2 separate regions of the Homo sapiens genome follow, and region 1 is reported to be linked to region 2. The links are microRNA targets in miRTarBase. Many come from high-throughput screens and were not tested one by one. Region 2 holds a microRNA gene; the other region holds the end of a gene's coding sequence.
Evidence for each region. The annotated mature microRNA hsa-miR-506-5p reads UAUUCAGGAAGGUGUUACUUAA and lies in region 2 at 2,380-2,401, opposite strand. An mRNA with a match to its seed (bases 2 to 7 or 8) in the 3' UTR can be bound and repressed. Matches are read on the target gene's strand: a 7mer-m8 pairs with bases 2 to 8, a 7mer-A1 pairs with bases 2 to 7 and ends in A, and an 8mer does both.

Region 1: miRTarBase lists RAB32 as a target of hsa-miR-506-5p. The part of its 3' UTR that is shown has no 7-base or 8-base seed match.

The regions. Positions count from the first base shown.
Region 1 is chr6:146,553,772-146,558,174 of GRCh38, reverse strand. It overlaps RAB32 (RAB32, member RAS oncogene family), which reads right to left. Exons shown (of 3, transcript NM_006834.5): 3 at 3,222-3,719. The coding sequence ends at 3,570. Among named protein-coding and RNA genes, the nearest start is that of RAB32, 12 kb to the right of the region's middle.
Region 2 is chrX:147,228,409-147,232,811 of GRCh38, forward strand. MIR506 (microRNA 506) reads right to left here and starts at 2,435; the gene lies at 2,312-2,435. It overlaps MIR507 (microRNA 507), which reads right to left and starts at 2,669; the gene lies at 2,576-2,669. All of the region lies in intron 2 of LOC105373347 (periphilin-1), which reads left to right.

The DNA.
Region 1 (4,403 bases), not on the chromosome of region 2:
CCGCTTTGACCTACCAAAGTGTTGGGATTAGATCTTGCCAAGCCTAGGCTTTGGTTTTGTTTTTGTTCTCAATAAATTAATGAATCTTGCCCATCCAAGTTCACTTAATGTATAAAACAAATTTGGTCAAGGTCTCATTTTGCATTAGCTTTGGATTGTGTTACAAAACCCTTACAATTTTATTTGAAAGTTGGAAGTTCTGGCCAGGGCAATTAAGCAGGAGAAGGAAATAAAGGGTATTCAATTAGGAAAAGAGGAAGTCAAATTGTCCCTGTTTGCAGACGACATGATTGTATATCTAGAAAACCCCATAGTCTCAGCCCAAAATCTCCTTAAGCTGATAAGCAACTTCAGCAAAGTCTCAGGATACAAAATCAATGTACAAAAATCACAAGCGTTCTTATACACCAATAACAGACAAACAGAGAGCCAAATCATGAGTGAACTCCCATTCACAATTGCTTCAAAGAGAATAAAATACTTAGGAATCCAACTTACAAGGGACGTGAAGGACCTCTTCAAGGAGAACTACAAACCACTGCTCAACGAAATAAAAGAGGATACAAACAAATAGAAGAACATTCCATGCTCATGGGCAGGAAGAATCAATATTGTGAAAATGGCCATATTGCCCAAGGTAATTTATAGATTCAATGCCATCCCCATCAAGCTACCAATGACTTTCTTCACAGAATTGGAAAAAACTACTTTAAAGTTCATATGGAACCAAAAAAGAGCCCACATTGCCAAGTCAATCCTAAGCCAAAAGAACAAAGCTGGAGGCATCACGCTACCTGACTTCAAACTATACTACAAGGCTACAGTAACCAAAACAGCACGGTACTGGTACGAAAACAGAGATATAGATCAATGGAACAGAACAGAGCCCTCAGAAATAATACCACACTTCTACAACTATCTGATCTTTGACAAACCTGACAAAAACAAGAAATGGGGAAAGGATTCCCTATTTAATAAATGGTGCTGGGAAAACTGGCTAGCCATATGTAGAAAGCTGAAACTGGATCCCTTCCTTACACCTTATACAAAAATTAATTCAAGATGGATTAAAGACTTAAACGTTAGACCTAAAACCATAAAAACCCTAGAAGAAAACCTAGGCATTACCATTCAGGACATAGGCATGGGCAAGGACTTCATGTCTAAAACACCAAAAGCAATGGCAACAAAAGCCAGAATTGACAAATGGGATCTAATTAAACTAAAGAGCTTCTGCACAGCAAAAAGAAACTACCATCAGAGTGAACAGGCAACCTACAATATGGGAGAAAATTTTCACAACCTACTCATCTGACAAAGGGCTAATATCCAGAATCTACAATGAACTCAAACAAATTGACAAGAAAAAAACAAACAACCCCATCAACAAGTGGGCAAAGGATATGAACAGACACTTCTCAAAAGAAGACATTTATGCAGCCAAACGACACATGAAAAAATGCTCATCATCACTGGCCATCAGAGAAAGGCAAATCAAAACCACAATGAGATACTATCTCACACCAGTTAGAATGACAATCATTAAAAAGTCAGGAAACAACAGGTGCTGGAGAGGATGTGGAGAAATAGGAACACTTTTACACTGTTGGTGGGACTGTAAACTAGTTCAACCATTGTGGAAGTCAGTGTGGCGATTCCTCAGGGATCTAGAACTAGAAATACAATTTGACCCAGCCATCCCATTACTGGGTATATACCCAAAGGACTATAAATCATGCTGCTATAAAGACACATGCACACGTATGTTTATTGCGGCACTATTCACAATCCCAAAGACTTGGAACCAACCTAAATGTCCAACAATGATAGACTGGATTAAGAAAATGTGGCACATATACACCATGGAATACACCATGTCCTTTGTAGGGACGTGGATGAAATTGGAAATCATCATTCTCAGTAAACTATCACAAGGACAAAAAACCAAACACCGCGTGTTCTCACTCATAGATGGGAATTGAGCAATGAGAACACATGGACACAGGAAGGGGAACATCACACTCTGGGGACTGTTGTGGGGTTGGGGGAGGGGGGAGGGATAGCATTAGGCGATATACCTAATGCTAAGTGACGAGTTAATGGGTGCAGCACACCAGCATGGCACATGTATACATATGTAACTAACCTGCACACTGTGCACATGTACCCTAAAACTTAAAGTATAATAATAATAATAATAATAATAATAATAATATAATAATAATAAAAGAAAGAAGTAAGTTTGGACCTTTCTTAAATCAGTAAGTTGGACATGATATAAGTAAGTCCCTTAAAAATAAAAGGCAAAAGTTAACAAATTTTTCTAAGGCAGAAAAGTACATCCCATATTACCTTTCTATTGTAGAATTATACTAATTCAAAAGTAAGACTTCGGTCAAAATATTTATTATTTTCATTAATTGGCTTAAATGGTAATGCAGATATTGTGAATCTGCCTTAAGTTTCTTAGATATTATACTTTAAATGTCCCGACCCTTAGATAAAACCACACATGACCTAGTGTCTTTCACAATTCATACTATAGAAGCTCAGATTTAATTGTATATGCTTTGAAATACTTTCTCTCCTTGACCATTGCTATCACAGACTTGAGAAAGAATTGCAACCATCATATCACTTAGGCCCTCAGTTATGAACATAAACACACAGGAAGAAGAGAGAAAGGACTAGGGAGAGAGAAGAAGAAATGCTCATTTATATAGTTTCCAAGGGGTAGTAACCATATCCAGAAGGAAACATCCATAATACAGATGTGCTATGAGTACTTTTTCAGTCATTAAGAAGGTCATTTTAATGTATTTAAGAAGAGCGACCACATGCCACACCAGCTATGAATGGTTAAGTTAGTTATAAGTAAGGAAAGTAACTTTACACGAAGTTTCAAAAGGTTCGTTTGTTTGTTTTGCTTTGTTTTGTTTTAAGAAAGAGGTTCTCACTCTGTTGCTCAGGCTGGAGTGCCATGGTGCAATCATAGCTCACTGTGACCTCAAACTTCTGGGCTCAAGTGATCTTCCTGCCTCACCTTCTTAAAGTGCTGGAATTATAGGCATGAGCCACCATACCTGGCCTTTCCAAAGTTTTGAATAGAAAATCGCTAAAGAGAAACCTCAAGCCTTCGTGGCTAATAGAATCTAAAAACCCCCCTAAAAAGCGAGGATGCAATAAGGTGGCAAAAATAAGACTCAAAATGACCATAAGACTGGAGGTAACATTTTATTACCACCCCAGCACTTACACTAAAAGCTACAACTTGGAAGCCTTACCAAATCCTGAGGAATTGTCATATAAAAATGTTTAAAAGGATGTAAACATTATCTTCCATATGATGGCAACAATGACAAAAGCCTAATTGTCATCTGTTAAGTTACAGAGCCACTAGCAGGGATACTTCTCCCAAAGTTCCATTTTCAAATAAGTGCAGGCGCCCAGTGGTGCTGCCTTTTGAAGTGCCACATGTGGGAAGACTCCCAGCTAACATGACATCTGTAACCCATTCTCAGGAACTTCTTCAGAGCTGAGGCACACACAAGAGAAGCAGAAGCCATATATCAGCAACACTGGGATTTGTTCTCTGCTCTCAAGGTCTCTTGATCTAGCTTAATTTTGTCCACATCGTTTTCTTCATTAGGAAAGCTTTGGTGGTTTACAAGAATCTTCTCCACTAGGAACCGGGCAGCTTCCTCTATGTTTATGTTATCCTGTAATGCAGAAATGAAGAACGGGATTAATTTTTAGGATTAATTCTTAGAATAAGGCATTAAGAGTATGAATGGGACCAGGAAAATTTGTTAGAGGTGGCAGCAAGTGCACAGCCACTTTCCTCTAATACTAAAGTGTGTGCCCACTTAGAGTTGAATGTTAAAGAATAATGTGGTGATGGAAAGAATTCCCTTATTTTTATGAAGGACACCTTTTCTGATGTTCCTATCTTAAACCTTTGCCACTGAGGTTCCATGAGCTATCTCGACGGTTGAAAATGAATCTTTGCTCTGGGCTGCAATTCATATAATGAAGACATTCCAAATAAAAAAATTCCTGCCCTTGAATATCTAATTCAAGCAGTCAGGATACACTGTGAAAAAAACTGAAAGGGCTCAAACAACATTAAAATGTGATAAATGTATCATGTCATTTTTCCATCTCTAAGTACCAATTATTCCTTTTAGTTGTCATGTATAAATTAGCCTGAAACAATGTTGTCAGTGCAATGTCCATTAAGGACACCCTAAGGAATTATTAGCCGTCACAGCATTTGTGCGACTGAATTATAAGTTATCATTAAATATACAGTAGGTAACACATTGCAAAAACTGTGCTTATTTTTAAATATATTTAACTGTTCATTTTTAAATAATTTTGGATTTACAAAAACATTGCAAAAA
Region 2 (4,403 bases):
TAAGAAGAGATATCTTGAAAACACGGAAAGAGAAAAGTCAATACAATATTTCCTAATTTTTTAAGAGGTCAGAGAAGGGAGTTACTGTGTGGCCTGGAGCAGGTGATTCTGACTACCAAGGGAAAATTGGAGTACTACTCCACAATGGAGGTAAGGAAGAATATTTCTGAAATACATAAGATGTCTCTTAGTATTACTATGCCTTGTGATTAAGGTCAGTAGAAAACTACAACAACCCAATCCTGGCAGGACTACTAATGGCCCAGACCCTTCAGAAATGAAAGTTTGGGTCACTCTACCAGGTAAAATATAATGGCTGAGGTGCTTGCTGAAGGCAAAGGGAATACAAAATGGGTAGTGAAGAAAAGTAGTTGTAAATACCAGCTAACACCAGATGACAGTTACAGAAATGAGAATTGTAGTTCCCATGAGTATTTTCTACTTATATTTTTATTAATATACTTCTGTGTTTTCTTGTCTCTCTTATCCCCTTATCATGTAACGTAAGGTGTACTGATATTATATCATAGTTATTAACCGTTGTTAACTTTAAATAATCATAGTATTGATGTTATGGAACACCAAGGAGAAGAGTAAACAAACAACACTCCAGGACTTTATCTCCTCTTCTGGTGAAGTGGTTCATGAATTCTGGGTTGTATAAATGGTAGTTGTATCTTATTAAATGAAATTATGACCTTGGTATTTTTCTCATTTGATGATTAAATATAATTTAAGGAGATGCGTATAAGTGACAACATGACAAGGAGTGAACTTGTGATGATTAATTCTATATTTCAACCTGACTGGGTCATGGAGTGCCCAGACATTTGGTCAGTCATTATTCTGGGTGTTTCTGTGAAGGTCTTTTTGGATGACATTAGCATTTAAATCAGTAGAATGAGTAAAGCAGACCACCCTCCCTAATGTGGATGGATGGGCCTGCACCAATCAGATGAAGGTTTAAATGGAACAAAAAGGCTGACTCTCCCCTAAGTTAGAGAGAATTCCTCCTGCCTGACTGCCTCCAAACTGGGGCATCTCATTTTTTTCTGGCATTGTACTCAAATTAAAACATTAGCTCTTCCTGGGTCTCAAACCTGCTGGCCTTTGGACTGGAACTACAAAATGGTTTGTTCTACTGCTTCTTTGGCCTCTGGACTTGGACTGCAACTATACCATCAGTTCTCCTGGGTCCCCAGCTTGCTGACCCATCCCCCTGCAGATCTAGGAACTCACCAGCCTCCATAGTTGCCTGAGGTTATTCCTTGCAGTATCCTTATAATAAATATCTTAAGGGATTTATTTTAAAAATAGACTTCTATAATAATTATATACATATATATTTGCTCAATCATTGTCCTGGGTGTTTCTTTGAAGGTCTTATAAGACCTGATCCAGAATCTGAGGGTGCCTGGGGTACCTGTGAAAAGTATGTCCTGTAGGTTTTTTAAGCATTTATTCCTTTTTCTCCACAAAAGGACTACAAAACACTGGGAACAAGATTTGAGGTAGGAACATGATCCTTTTTCTGCATCCTTTTCCTTTTTCTGTGAATGTCATATGTATGTGTGTGTGTGTGTGTGTGTGTGTGTATATATATATATATATATATATATATATATATATATAAAGGGATATATAAACCCCTTTGTATATGTAAAGTTTCCAGAAGTATATGTACACACATGTTCATACATATATGTTCTCATCACTTCATCCGTTCCCATAATAGTTAAGACCAGCTAAAAACATATAAATAGTTCAAATGAAAGCAAATTTGGGGTATCATATCAAACTCCACTGATATGAGATTATCATCACGGATACACAGGAATATTAAAGGGAATTTGAGTGTATCTAAGCCTTGAGGAGATCACTTCATAAGAAAGATGGTTCATGGAGTTTGGAGTTCAGCAGGGAAGGGCAGGAGGATATTTGTGCTCCCTAAAAAGAAGGCTTAAATATTGTGAGGAAAGAAGATCAGTGTAAACTTCTCAGGGGTTTATAAGGCAAGAAGTGTATTTGGGTTGTTATAGAGAGAAAAGACTAAGAGGTACAAGAGAAAAAGAAGTATCATGTTCCTACCTCAAATCTTGTTTCCAGTGTAGTCAGTCATTTTGTGGAGAAAAAGCAATAAATAATTGAAAAACCTACATGAGAGACTTTTCCCAGGCACCCTCAGATTCTGGAGCAGATCTCTCAAGAGGTACTTCAGAGAGTACCTGGAAATGGCTCATCACTAAAGGTTGGGTACCAAGGCTCAAGGGAGGGCAGTATTGTCACTGAAATTCCACTCGTCATTACCAATGCCACCACAAATGTTGTCCATGTTGCACATTACTCTACTCAGAAGGGTGCCTTACAAATATTAATCTATTAAGTAACACCTTCCTGAATAAGGCACTACACATAGTATGGCTGATGGTGGTGGCACTGACCATCTTAATAGTAACACGGGGAAACTACAGATGAGGCTATTCCCAGAGAACCTCATCCTCTAGGTTTTACCCCACAGAATTCTCTTTAAAGGGTTGTATGAGTTGACCCATCACTGAGTGGGTAGTTCTGACTTGTATCTGTTGTGCATTATTTCACTCCAAAAGGTGCAAAACATATTTCTAGACACATGCATGGCACTTCTTGAAGTGAAGCACTACACACAGCACAGCGGAAAATGTCCCTCACTCCGCCATTTCAGTCAGAATCCCAACACTCTCAGTCCACTAGGAATAAGCAGAATATAGTCAATAGATTAAAAAAAAAACAAACCCTTTTTCCTCTCCCTTTTGTCTCCTATGTCTTTCACTGAATGCTTATTAATTACTTCACCTGCTGCACATTTAATGAGACAGATTTTAGGAGAGAGAAAATTTTCCCTCTTCCTCCCAGACTTAGCATACTTCACTAAATTGTTCTGCTAATTTTCAATTTAATATAGTTGGCACATGAACAACTACTTCATATGCCTCAAAAGCCAGTCATTACATAGAAAGGACCACTCAAGTGACTCATCATATCTAGCGATTGCAGGCCAGATAGAGCTCAGTTGAAGCAGTGCTGGAGAGTTCTCTTCTTTCCAATTTGAATCTTCTTTATATCATTGGGGCCTTGGTTTGGCATCCTCTGTTCAGAGATGAAGGCCTACAGCAGCAGAAGCAGTAGTCACCACAGTCATGCACTTGCAAACCAGTGTTTAGACCAAGAAATATCTGCAACACATGTGAACACATGCATGCCACACATGCAAATAAACATGTGAACAATGAAACAAACAACCCCAAAACGAATGCTCACAAAATAGGGCAATGCAAACACAAAGACAAACACTGCATGATCTGACTCATACGCAGAGTCTAAGAAAGTTGATCTCATAGGAGTAGAGAGTAGAATGATGGTTACCAGAGTCTGGGGAAGGGAAGGGAAAGGGGGGTTGGGGAAAAATTGGTTTATGGGTACAGAGTCACAGTTAGGAGGGCTAAAAGTTCTGATGTGTTATTGTGCAGAAGAGTGATTGATTATAGTTAGTTAACAATATTTTATGGTATATTCCAAAATCACTAGAAGAGAGGGTTTTGAATGTTCTTCCCACAAAGAAGTGATGGACGTTTGAGGTAATGAAAATACTAAATCCCTGATTTGATTATTACACAATGCATGTATGTATCAAAACATCTCACTATATCTCATCAATATTTACAAATTATTATGTGTCAACTAAAAAAACAATAAAGGAGTAACAATTTTTTTTTTGAGACAGAGTTTTGCTTTTGTTGCCCAGGCTGGAGGGCAATGGCACAATCTCAGCTCACTGCAACCTCCGCCTCCTGGGTTCAAGCGATTCTCCTGCCTCAGCCTCCCACGTAGCTGGGATTACAGGCATGTGCCACCAGACCCAGCTAATTTTCTGTATTTTCTGTAGAAGCAGGGTTTCACCGTGTTGACCAGGCTGGTCTTGAACTCCTGGCCTCAGGAGATCCACTGGCCTCGGCCTCCCAAAGTGCTGGGATTACAGGCATGAGCCACCGTGCCCAGCCGGGAGTAACAATTTTTAAGAATGTAAAAATACTACTGAAAATTCTAATTAACACACATTTAAAAACACCATTCAAAATCGGAATAAAAAAAAACACACAAAATATACAAAACACATCCAAATATACAAAATTCTACAGGAAACAAAAACCCTAAAAAAGCAAACAAGCAATACAATAACAAAAATCAAAAAGAACATACACAATACAAAAACCCCCAAAACATAAAAACAAATACACTAAAATGTAACTTTACTTTCCAATAATCCCAAACAAAACAGAGAACGAAGTTCAAAGGAAATCTAGCACGTATCAGGGATAGACGACACTGCACTGAGAAATGCTGCGAGTGTAGGAAGGAGAGCAGTG